2 separate regions of the Homo sapiens genome follow, and region 2 is linked to region 1. The links come from fine-mapping of genetic effects on gene expression. A gene starts in region 1. The other region holds a variant in brackets. All regions are shown on one strand. Distances are from middle to middle. Region 1 holds the start of HIC2 (HIC ZBTB transcriptional repressor 2). Region 2 has its middle 5.2 kb from the start of TMEM191C.

Evidence for each region. PIP is the estimated chance that this variant, and not a neighbour inherited with it, causes the effect.
Region 2: its variant is fine-mapped to the expression of HIC2 in blood mononuclear cells (TOPMed, PIP 0.95).

Annotation. Positions count from the first base shown.
Region 1 is chr22:21,415,165-21,420,527 of GRCh38, reverse strand. It overlaps HIC2 (HIC ZBTB transcriptional repressor 2), which reads right to left and starts at 3,157. Exons shown (of 3, transcript NM_015094.3): 1 at 2,968-3,157.
Region 2 is chr22:21,459,529-21,464,891 of GRCh38, reverse strand. No RefSeq gene overlaps it. Among named protein-coding and RNA genes, the nearest start is that of TMEM191C, 5.2 kb to the left of the region's middle. The variant A/G (reference allele first, on the strand shown) is at 2,315.

The DNA of each region.
Region 1 (5,363 bases):
CGCTATGCCCTCTGCGCTCCGCTAGATGCCAGCCCTTATCACCCCATCTTATAATCATTTGTTGAGTGTCTGCCTTCCCTAGGCTGAGCTCCAGAAAACAGCGATACATGAATGTAAACTCCAGTTCTGTTCCCATTGTAGAAACCCGGCAGGAGAGTCAATCACTGCTCAAGGTCATGACGGGAGTAAATGGCAGAGCCAGCAATGCACTACAGACTTTGCGACCGACCAAGTCCAGTTCCCCTCTCACTGCCCCACAGGGGTCCGTCCTAGGCCAGGCTCGGAGGAGACAAGAAGGGAGGAACCCAATGTGTTCTTTCTTCCCGCGGTGAAAGCTGCCTCCCAGGCCAGCAAGAGCAGCCCAGAAGAAGTGCCCCACTCTCCCAGGGATCAGGTACTGGGGGCAGCGGGCAGGACAAGGTATGGGGTGGGGCTGACTGCTCCAGGCCAACAGACCAAGCAATAAGGTTGGAACCACAAGTCCCCTGGGTAAACTGAACTTTATTCCTTCCTCACGGCTCTCACTCTCCAGAACTGCCCCGCCAGCTCTTCTCCAGGGGCTGGCTGCTGATTAAATGGCACTTCCCCACCCCTCAGATCTGACCCCGCAAACAATAAGGACTTGAGGGGAGGCGGCAGGCTATCAGCTCAATAATGCAAAACCCTGTTGCTCCTCGTCCACAACAGCTGACTTCAAGTGGATGGGAGGCTGCGCTTATTAACAAAATGAGAAATCTGATCTACGGAAAGAAAACACTACGTGAGGATTAATCTGCGACTGCAGCTTGTGGAGAAGGCTGGGCTGCTGGCCAAGACCAAGGATCGAGGATGGGATCGTGCCTACCTGTCCCCAGAGCAGGTATCATGCAGCACAACAGGACTCATCACCCCTGCCCCACCTGCGCCTTCTCTTCTCCTTCCAGCAACTTCGACAATCATTTCGGTTTTGCTTTAATTAAAGGCCTGACTCCCTCGGGCTGCTTCTTCCTCTACACAGAGGCAGCAACCAGAGGGAGATTTTTCTTTTCAGGAATCGGTCGTAAAAACTCAGTGACTAATCTACAAGTTCCAACAACTGGCAGAAAAACACCGCAGGGAGAGGTTGCTGGGCACACAGCAGCACTCAGAGCCAACTGACCAGAGAAGCTGGGCCACAGGCACTCTACTACAACCTCCCTCCCCCAGCCCGACACTGGCCTGCCGACCCACCTGAGAGCTCTGACCTCCCAAGGCAGGCAGCTGGGGAGCCTCTTCCCAGCCTTCCAAGTCTACTGCTCGTCCTGTGGGACCCAGAGATCTTCACAGTCTCAATGGCACAAGACGGAACGTTCACTTCCAGGCAACAATCCTGCGCCACAGGACTCAGTTCAGCCCCCAAGTATCAGACTCCCGGCCCTGTTCTTGGTGTTCAGAGCCCACTAAACCAGCAGTCTTGCCACACAGCTTTGTCTCCAGAGGCCAGCTCATCTGCTTTTTTTCACACTACTCCAGCAACCCTGCTCCACCAAGCACGCACACTCTCCTTGACACAGGGCTCCAGACCAACCACATGGCCTGTGCTCCTGAAAATGCCTGCCTGAAGGCCCAGGGAGTCCAGACACTGGCAGATGAGAATGGACGAAAAGAAGCCAAGCCAGAAGCCAGGAAGCAATAAATGCTAGACCCAGAAAGGCCTTAGGTTTGAGTGACCCAGCTCCATCCCTCCATCCTGGATCCTTGGAGGACAGCCCCAAGTTCAGCCTAGGAGCTCCCAAGGCCCCTCCACTACCTGCCAGCTCTCCGACAGCACAAGAGACACAGCAATCCCACATCAGTCAACAACCCACCGCCACAGGATTCCTAGGGGCAAGGCTCTGCCCCTCCCCCCAGCACATATGTCAGAGGGGTGGCTTCCCTGGGTTACACCCCTCCTGCTGTTGGGGGAGTGGGGGGTCGGGGAACACAGCTTTCCAGATGTGCTTGGCAACTCCTACTAGAAAAGACTAGGGGTGCGGGGGACAGGAGAAGACATGGATAAATAACTTTAACACCGCTCCAACCCATCCGGCTCAGCACTGGGCTCCCTTACACAGGCAGTCCCAGGCAGTTCTGGGTGGGGCCGTTGGGAGCATTATCTGGCCTCATTCCCTCCTCTCAGCAAGTCACTGCCCCCCAGGGAGAGGCATTCCCCCCCACCCCCCCCAACCACGCACACACCCAGGCCTGTGTGAATATGAACCATCTTGGAAGATAAACAGAGAGTGACAAGCTGGGGCCCCTCAGCCCCCTCCCTCAGCCAGCCGGTCCCTTCCCCCTGAAAGCCGACCCCCTCCCCCAAGCCCATCTCTCTTCCTGCCAAGCGGCTGCCTACAGGAGAGGTCTGGGGGCAGGGCAGCGAGCCCACCAGCCGCAGAGCCCGGCCCTCTGGGAGCGGCCCCTCCAGGCCCGCCCCTGCCCCTGCCGTGGCCAGTCTTCCCGCGGGGAGGAGGCAAGAGGAGAGGAGACCGCAGACGGTGCAGGACCGCAGTCCTGGAAATCGCAAAATCCTCTAGCGAGGGGGCGAACGCGGGCGCAGGGCCGTTTGCATAATGGGAGCCCTCCCGCCTGTCAGGCAGCGCAGCTCGCCCGACGCTGTTCGGATTAGATTGCTAATGAAAAGGCACAAAGAGCCGGCGCCCGCTCGCCCGCCGACCCCCGCTCCGCAGACCCGCGCCGCCTGGGCCTGGCGCGGCCCGGTGGGCTTTGTGCCCCGGGTGCCCCACCGCCCGCGCCCCTCCGGGCATCTGGCCCACAAAGCCCGGGCCTGCCAGGGGTCCCGCGTGCGCCCCAGCCCAGGCCCGCCAGACGCTAGCGCGTCCCCCACGCGCGCAGTCCCACGTCGCCCGGGCGCGCGCGCGTCCACGCCCCTCTCCCCGGGGACGCGCCCAGCCCGCGGCCCCGGCCCCCGCCCGCTCCCCGCGCCCCCCGCCCCACAAGGCCGCCCCTCACCTCGTGTGCGTCGGCGGCGGCGCTCCGCCCGCCGGCCGGCCGGCCCTACCAGCGGCCCTTGTCCTCAGCGCCCGGCTCGCGCCGCACGCGCCCGCCCCGTCCGCCTGCCGCCAGCCCGGCTCGGCTCCCCGCCTAGCGCGCCCCGAGCGCCGCTCACAGCCGCCCGCCCAGCGCCATCTTGGAAGCTTGTGACGTCGGCGCCGCCCGCTCACCCCTGACCCACATCTGAATGGGCGAGCGGCGGGGCGGGGACAGGGGGCAGCTGGGGGCGTGGCCTGTGAACAGGGGCGGGGCCTGCGGGGGCGGGGCCGGGCCGGACAGCGGTCCCAGCACTAGGCGGGGCGGGCTGCCGGGGTCCGGCGCCGTGGGGGAGGGGTGCGCGGGAGGAGCCGGGGACCCAGACCCCGGACATCTAACCGGACTCCGACCTCAAGCGCCAGGGCAGGACCGCGACCTCGCCCCTGAAATACCCGGACCGCATACCGGCCCCCGGGACAGGGACCCTGGCCCCCCCCGACAGGCTGACGCCCACCCCCTCAAACTCTGGTGGACTTACCCCCTTTTAGCCCTACCCTGACCCCTAGGAGCCCCGAATTAGGGACCTCTATCGGCCTACGCGCCCCCTCCCCGACCCCTTTGCGACCCCTGCTCGACGCTCCCTGCGGTTGCCCGAGGCTCAAAGGCGCAGCCAGCAGTGACTGCAAGCTCGGGGGTCTGGGCTCCTGGGGAAGCCCGGGCTGGTTGGGTGCAAAAGAGAAGGGGCGCCCCTCCCGTGACCCCAGCGCCCCTCGGGCCCCCGCGGGCGCACCCCCGCGAACCCTACCTGCTCCGAGGGCGCGGAGGACCCAGCACGCTGCGCTCAGCCAGCCCCTTCCGGTGGCCGCAGCCCCTCGCAGGCCCCAGGGGTCAAGCGCCTGCCCGAGCCGGCCCACCAGGACCCGGGCTCCCGGCCGCCATGCAGATAGCCTTCCCAGGGGCTGGGCTGGCCTGAGCCGCCACTGCTTCTCTAGGGAGCTAGTTAATGGACCGCTCTCTACTTTGAACACCAAACAAAGGAACACACCACTATCGAGGTCGCCCAAGTCCAAGAGGAGCCCAGGTCTGCCTTACAGGGAAGTTGTGCCCCAGCTCCAGTCAAGATCAAAAACCAGTTTCAATAACCCTTCGCCAAGCTGATGATGCAACCTTTCTTTCCTAATGGATGTATAGGTTTAATGTCATCCTAACAACATTTCTTAGACTTCACAAAATTCTAAGTTCACCTGGAAAAATAAATAGCCGAAAACAGCTATGGTTTTCCCCCCTTGGGAACAAAAGCAGGCATGAGGGTAGACTTGCCCTAACAGATATCAAAACAAATTGTAAAGCTACCGCAGGCATTTCAGTGTGGTACAGAACAGGAAATAGAATAGAAAGCCTAGAAACATCCTAGAAATGGTAAGAACACAATAGATGAAAAAGGAAATATCAAACATCTGTGGAAAAAAAAGAGCTATCAAACATCCCTGAAGAAGAACAAGAATATTCCACAAATAGAGCCTAGCAGAGGACTCACTATTTGAAGGAACGACTGAAAAAAAAAGTCAACCATTCTACTAACCCAAGACATATAAATTAAAACTATAGGCCGGGCGCGGTGGCTCACGCCTGTAATCCCAGCACTTTGGGAGGCCAAGGCGGGCGGATCACGAGGTCAGGAGATCGAGACCATCCTGGCTAACACGGTGACACCCCGTCTGTACTAAAAATACAAAAAATTAGCCAGGCGAGGTGGCGGGCGCTTGTAGTCCCAGCTACTCGGGAGGCTGAGGCAGGAGAATGGCGTGAACCCCGGGGGGCGGAGCCTGCAGTGAGCCGAGATCGTGCCACTGCACTCCAACCTGGGCGACAGCGAGACTCCGTCTCAAAAAAATAAATAAATAAATAAAATAAAACTATAAGAAGCTGGGTTTTCTCCTAAACAAATTAAAAATCAGTTTCAAGTGATAACCTTCAAACACAAGGTCTGATAGGTAATCACTCTCATATACTTTTGGAAGCACATAAATCACCTCAAAATTCCTGGACATGAGTTTGGCGGTATGAGCCAAAAGTTGTTTTTTTGGGGTTCTTTTGTCTTTTTTTGTTTTTTGGAGACTCGGAGTCTCACTCTGTTGCCCAGGCTGGAGTGTAGCCTCAAACTCCTGGGATCAAGTGATCCTCCTGCCTTCCAAAGTGCTGGGATTACAGGCATAAGCCAACGCACCTGGCCCCAAAAATATTTTAAAATAATTATACCCTCTCAGACCAGTATTCCAGGATTCTGTTCTGGGGAAATTAGCCACGTTTGCAGACCACGTACTTATTATCTGTCTCTCTACCCATAAGTAAGTTTGTACCTGTAAGTTTGGAACCCA
Region 2 (5,363 bases), 44 kb before region 1:
ATTCTAGCTACAAGTGATCCTCCTGCACTGGCCTCTTAAAGTTCGTAATGCTTTGCTCTTTTAAGTTTGTCTCTTTGTGAACATGTAAGAAACTACGGGGCCGGGCGCGGTGGCTCACGCCTGCAATCCCGGCACTTTGGAAGGCCAAGATGGACGATCTCCTGATCGAGGCCATCCTGGCTAACACGGTGAAACCCCGTCTCTACTAAAAATACAAAAAATTAGCCGGGCGTGGTGGCGGGTGCCTATAGTCCCAGCTACTCGGGAGGCTGAGGCTGGATAATGGCATAAACCCGGGAGGCGGAGCTTGCAGTGAGCGGAGCTTGCGCCACTGCACTCCAGCCTGGGTGACAGAGCAAGATCCATCTCAAAAAAAAAGAAAAAATTTAAAATGAGCTGGGTGTGCTGGTGTGCACCTGTAGTCCCGGTTACTCAGAAGGCTGAGCTGGGAGGATCTCTTGGGCTTGGGAGTTTAAGGCTGCAGTGAGCTATAATCATGCCACCACACTCCAGCCTGGGCAACAGTGAGACCCCCAACTCAATCAACCAATCAAAAATGTCTTCAGATCGGGCGCGGTGGCTCACACCTGTAATCCCAGCACTTTGGGAGGCTGAGGCAGGTGGATCACTTGAGGTCAGGAGTTCAAGATGAGCCTGGCCAACATGGTGAAACCCTGCCTCTACTAACAACAACAACAAAAAAAAAAATTAGGTTGGGCGTGGTGGTTCAAGTGATTCTCCTGCCTCAGCCTCTCAAGTAGCTGGACTACAGACGCCCACCACCACGTCTGGCTAATCCTTGTATTTTCAGTAGAGATAGGGTTTCATTATGTTGGTCAGGCTGGTCTCGAACTCCTGACCTCGAATGATCCACCTGCCTCAGCCTCCCAAAGTTACTGGGATTACAGGCGTGAGCCACCACACCTGGCCAATATTTTTTAATTTTAATTTTTTGTTAGAGAGAAAGGATCTTGCTCTGTCACCCAGGCTGAACTTCAGTGGCTTGATCCTAGCTCACTGCGGTCTTGAAATCCTGGGCTCAAGGAATCCTCCCACCTCAGCACCCCCAGTAGCTGGGACTACAGCATGGCTGATTATTTTTTTGTAGAAATGAAGTCTCACTATGTTGACCAGGCTGGTCTCAAACTCCTGGGCTCAAGTGATCCACTCACCTTGGCCTCCCAAAATGCTGGGATTACAGGCATGAACCACCCCCGCTGGTCTTTTTTTTTTTTTTTTTTTTTGAGATCGAGTCTCACTCTGTTGCCCGGGCTGGGGAGCAGTAGCGCCATCCCAGCTCACTGCAGCCTCGACCTCCTGTGCTAAAGTGATCCTCCTGCCTTGACCTCCCAAAGCACTGGGACTACAGGTGTTAACATTTATTTTTAATTTTTTTATTTTTGAGACAGAGTTTCACTCTTGTGGCCCAAGCTGGAGTGCAATGGTATGATCTCAGCTCACCGCAACCTCCGCCTCCAGGGTTCAAGCAATTCTCCTGCCTCAGTCTCCCGAGTAGTTGGGATTACAGGCACTCGCCACCATGCCCAGCTAATTTTTTGTATTTTTAGTAGAAACGGGGTTTCACCATGTTGGCCAGGCTGGTCTCGAACTTCTGACCTCAGGTGATCCGCCCGCCTCAGCCTCCCAGAGTGCTGGGATTACAGGCGTGAGCCACCACGGCTGGCCAGGCATTAACATTTATATAAACTAAATACACAGGGTGAGTACAGACGGTTGGTAGGACAAGGAGGAGGATGGGATCAGAAAGGAGGCGGCGAGAGCACCCACCAGGGATGAGGACAAGGGACATGAATGCTGTGCACCAGGAGGGGACATTCTGCAGATGAAAACTCTGCAGGTCAGAAGGAGAGTTTAGGACGCCTGCTACAACCAAGCACTGGGTCCCCTTTCACTAATGTTGAGAAATGCAAGCAAGACTGAAGGTATTTTGGTTACTTATAGTGGACTCAAAACGACCACAGATTGTCTACAGTTCTCACCACCAGTAGGTGGAGCCTGTTTCCCCAGCTCAGGAATCTAGGCTCACCCTTGGGTCTTGCTCTGACAAACAAGATGATGCAGAAAAGACTTTGTGGGCCTCCAGAGCGTGGACCTCAGAGCCTTTATAGCCCCTCTCACCCCCTTATTTTTTTTTTTTTTCTGAGACAGAGTCTTGCTTGGTTGCCCAGGCCAGAGTGCAATAGCACGATCATGGCTCACTGCGGCCTTAACCTCCTGAGACCAAGCCGTCCCCGTACCTCGGCCTCCCGAGTAGCTGGGACTGGCAGCAGCACCAACCAGCAGGCATGCCGGC[A/G]AACCCCCAGCCCCCAGCCAGCCCTGGGATGACTGCAGCTTGGCCAGAGCACCCAGGCAAGGTCTGCAGAACCTTTTGAGCACAAGGCCTGTTATGCAGCAAAGAATTACTGGACGTTTGTATTATTCGCAAAGGATTACTAGTGACTAAATTGTACTCCTATGAATGTGACACTATGCAGCAACCAGGTGACTGGGGTGGGGTGGCTTTACATGAGCTATTCTTGCCATCTCATGTTATAATTGGTCCCCTAGTGGTCAAAGTTGAGGTGGGGGAGAGGTGGGGCGGGGACAGAACACAGGGAGAGGAGCTGCTGCATTTCAGCCCCCACCTCACTGTGCACACGACTTCTGTGAGCGTGTTCAGTCCTTACAACCTAAAGGAGCTGGCACTGAAGGCTTCCATTTACATAGAGGAGGGACACGAGGGTGCATGTGTCCTGAAGCTCCACCACCACCCTTGGATTCACACCCGAAGGTTAGAAAGGTGCTATCTGCCAGTGCTGGGCCTGGGGAAAGCCATTTAGGATCTGCTGCTTCTCTTTCAGATAAACTTTAGAACTGTCTTGTCAAATTCTCCCAAATACATTGTTGGGATTTGATAGGAGTTGCAAAAACAAAGCCTGTATGTGAAGCGTATATATTAAAAGGGAAGAATGGGCTGGGCACAGTGGCTCACACCTGTAATCCCAGCACTTTGGGAGGCCAAGGTGGGAGGACCACTTGATCCTAGGACTTCCAGACCAGCCAGGGCAACATAGCAAGACCCCTTTTTAAAAATAAAATATTAAAATAAAAATTTTAAAGGGAAGAATGGACACTCTCCATCATCAGGTATTGGTCCCAGGAACAGAGCATTCCCGTCCAATCCCACAAGTCTTGCCTCAGGCCTCCTACAAATGTGCTATTTCCAAATGGGCTTTTGGCACATTTATCAAGGCTATGCCTATGTCACTTGTTTCCCGTTACTATTATGAAAAGGCCTTTCTGAAAATTTCATTTGGAGGCCAGGCATGCTGGCTCATACCTGTAATCCCAGCACTTTGGGAGGTTGAGGTGAGTGCATCTCTTGAGCTCAGGAGTTCAAGACCAGTCTGGGCAACATGGCATAACCTCATCTCTATCAAAAATACAAAAATTAGCTGGGTGTGGTGGTGTGCGCCTGTGGTCCCAGCTACTCAGGAGGCTGAGGTGGAGGATTGCGGGAGCCCGGGAAGCAGAGGCAGTGAGCCAAGAGCTACACTCCAGCCTGGGTGACAGAGCAACTGTCTAAAAGAAAAAAGGAGAAAATTGCATTTGGGATATACATATTACAGGTTAAATTGGGTCCCCCCGAATTCATATTGGAGTCCTAATTTTCAATACCTCAGAATGTGGCCTTAACTTGAAAACAGGGTCACTGCAGGTGTGATTAAGATGGGGTCTCAGCCGGGCGCGGTGGCTCATGCCTGTAATCCCAGCACTTTGGGAGGCCGAGGAGGGTGGATCACAAGGTCAGGAGATCAAGACCATCCTGGCTAACACAGTGAAACCCCGTCTCCACTAACAATACAAAAAATTAGCCGGGTGCAGTGGCGAGCGCCTGTAGTCCCAGCTCCTTGGGAGGTTGAGGCAGGGGAATGGCGTGAACCCAGGAGGCGGAGCTTGCAGTGAGCCAAGATCGTGCCACTGCACTCCCTCCTGGGCCACAGAGCAAGACTCTGTCTCAAAAAAAAAAAAAAAAAAAAAGATGGGGTCTCATTGGAGCAGGGTGGGACCCCATCCAATATGACTGATGTCCTTATGAAGTAGGAACTTGGCCACAGACGACACGCACACAGGCCCTCGAGGAAAGCGCCATGTGAAGGATGGAGTTCCGCTCCAGAAGCCAAGGAGTCACCAGGGGCTACGCAAGGGGCCAGACTCAGAGCCTCGCCGAGAGCCTGCAGGCGAGCATGGTGTCCACTGCCTCCACTGTGAGATGTGAACACCTGTGCTGCAGTGGCCGCAGGGAGCCAGTCCCGAGGGTCACACCGTGATGTCTGTCTGCAAGGGCCCAGCTGCTCTTACTGAGGCCTTTCCAGCGCAGCCGCCTCTCCACATTAGAGAGGATCAGCCTGGGCACATGGCTTGTGGTAGAAGGCCCTGATCACACCACAAACGCAGAGAGCGGCTTGTGATGCTCAGGTTTTCATGGCCACGTGGCTTCAGCCTCAGCAAGGAGGGCACCGGGCCCACGTCCGAGGGTTTACCTGGGGATGATCACAGTGAGGTGGGTGGCTCAACAGGACCTCACGGCGCTGGCCTGGGAGTGGTGGGCTCTGCAGGCCAGAGCTGTCTAGACGGGCAGTTTGCCTCTGGAGTCTTACATGTTCACTTCTTCCATAGCTCCGGCTCGTATCCTCTTCTCCCATGGTCTTGGAGCGTCCCCACCATATCCTGTTGGGGAAGCATCATGACCCTTTTCTTTTTGAGACAGGGTCTGGCTCTGTCACCCAGGCTGGAGTGCGGTCACACAATCATAGCTCACTGCAGCCTCCACCACCTGGACTCAAGCGATCCTCCTACTTCAGCCTCCCACATAGCTGGGACTACAGGTGTAGCCACACCCGCTAATTTTTTTTTTTTCTTTTTGGATAATCTTACTCTGTTGCCCAGGCTGGAGTGCAGTGGCACGATCTTGGCTCACTGCAACTTCTGCCTTCCGGTTCAAGCAATTCTCATGCCTCAGCCCCCAAAGCAGCTGGGATTACAGGCACATGCCACCATACCCAGCTAATTTTTTTTGAGACGGAGTTTCGCTCTTGTTGCCCAGGCTGGAGTGCAATGGCGTGATCTCGGTTCACTGCAACCTCTACCTCCTGGGTTCAAGCAATTCTCCTGTCTCAGCCTCCCGAGTACCCAGTATTACAGGCACCCGCCACCACCCAGCTAATTTTTGTATTTTTTAGTAGAGATAGGGTTTCACCATGTTGGCCAGGCTGGTCTTGAACTCTTGACCTCAGGTAATCCACCCGCCTTGGCCTCCCAAAGTGCTGGGATTACAGGCGTGAGCCACTGCACCTGGCCAA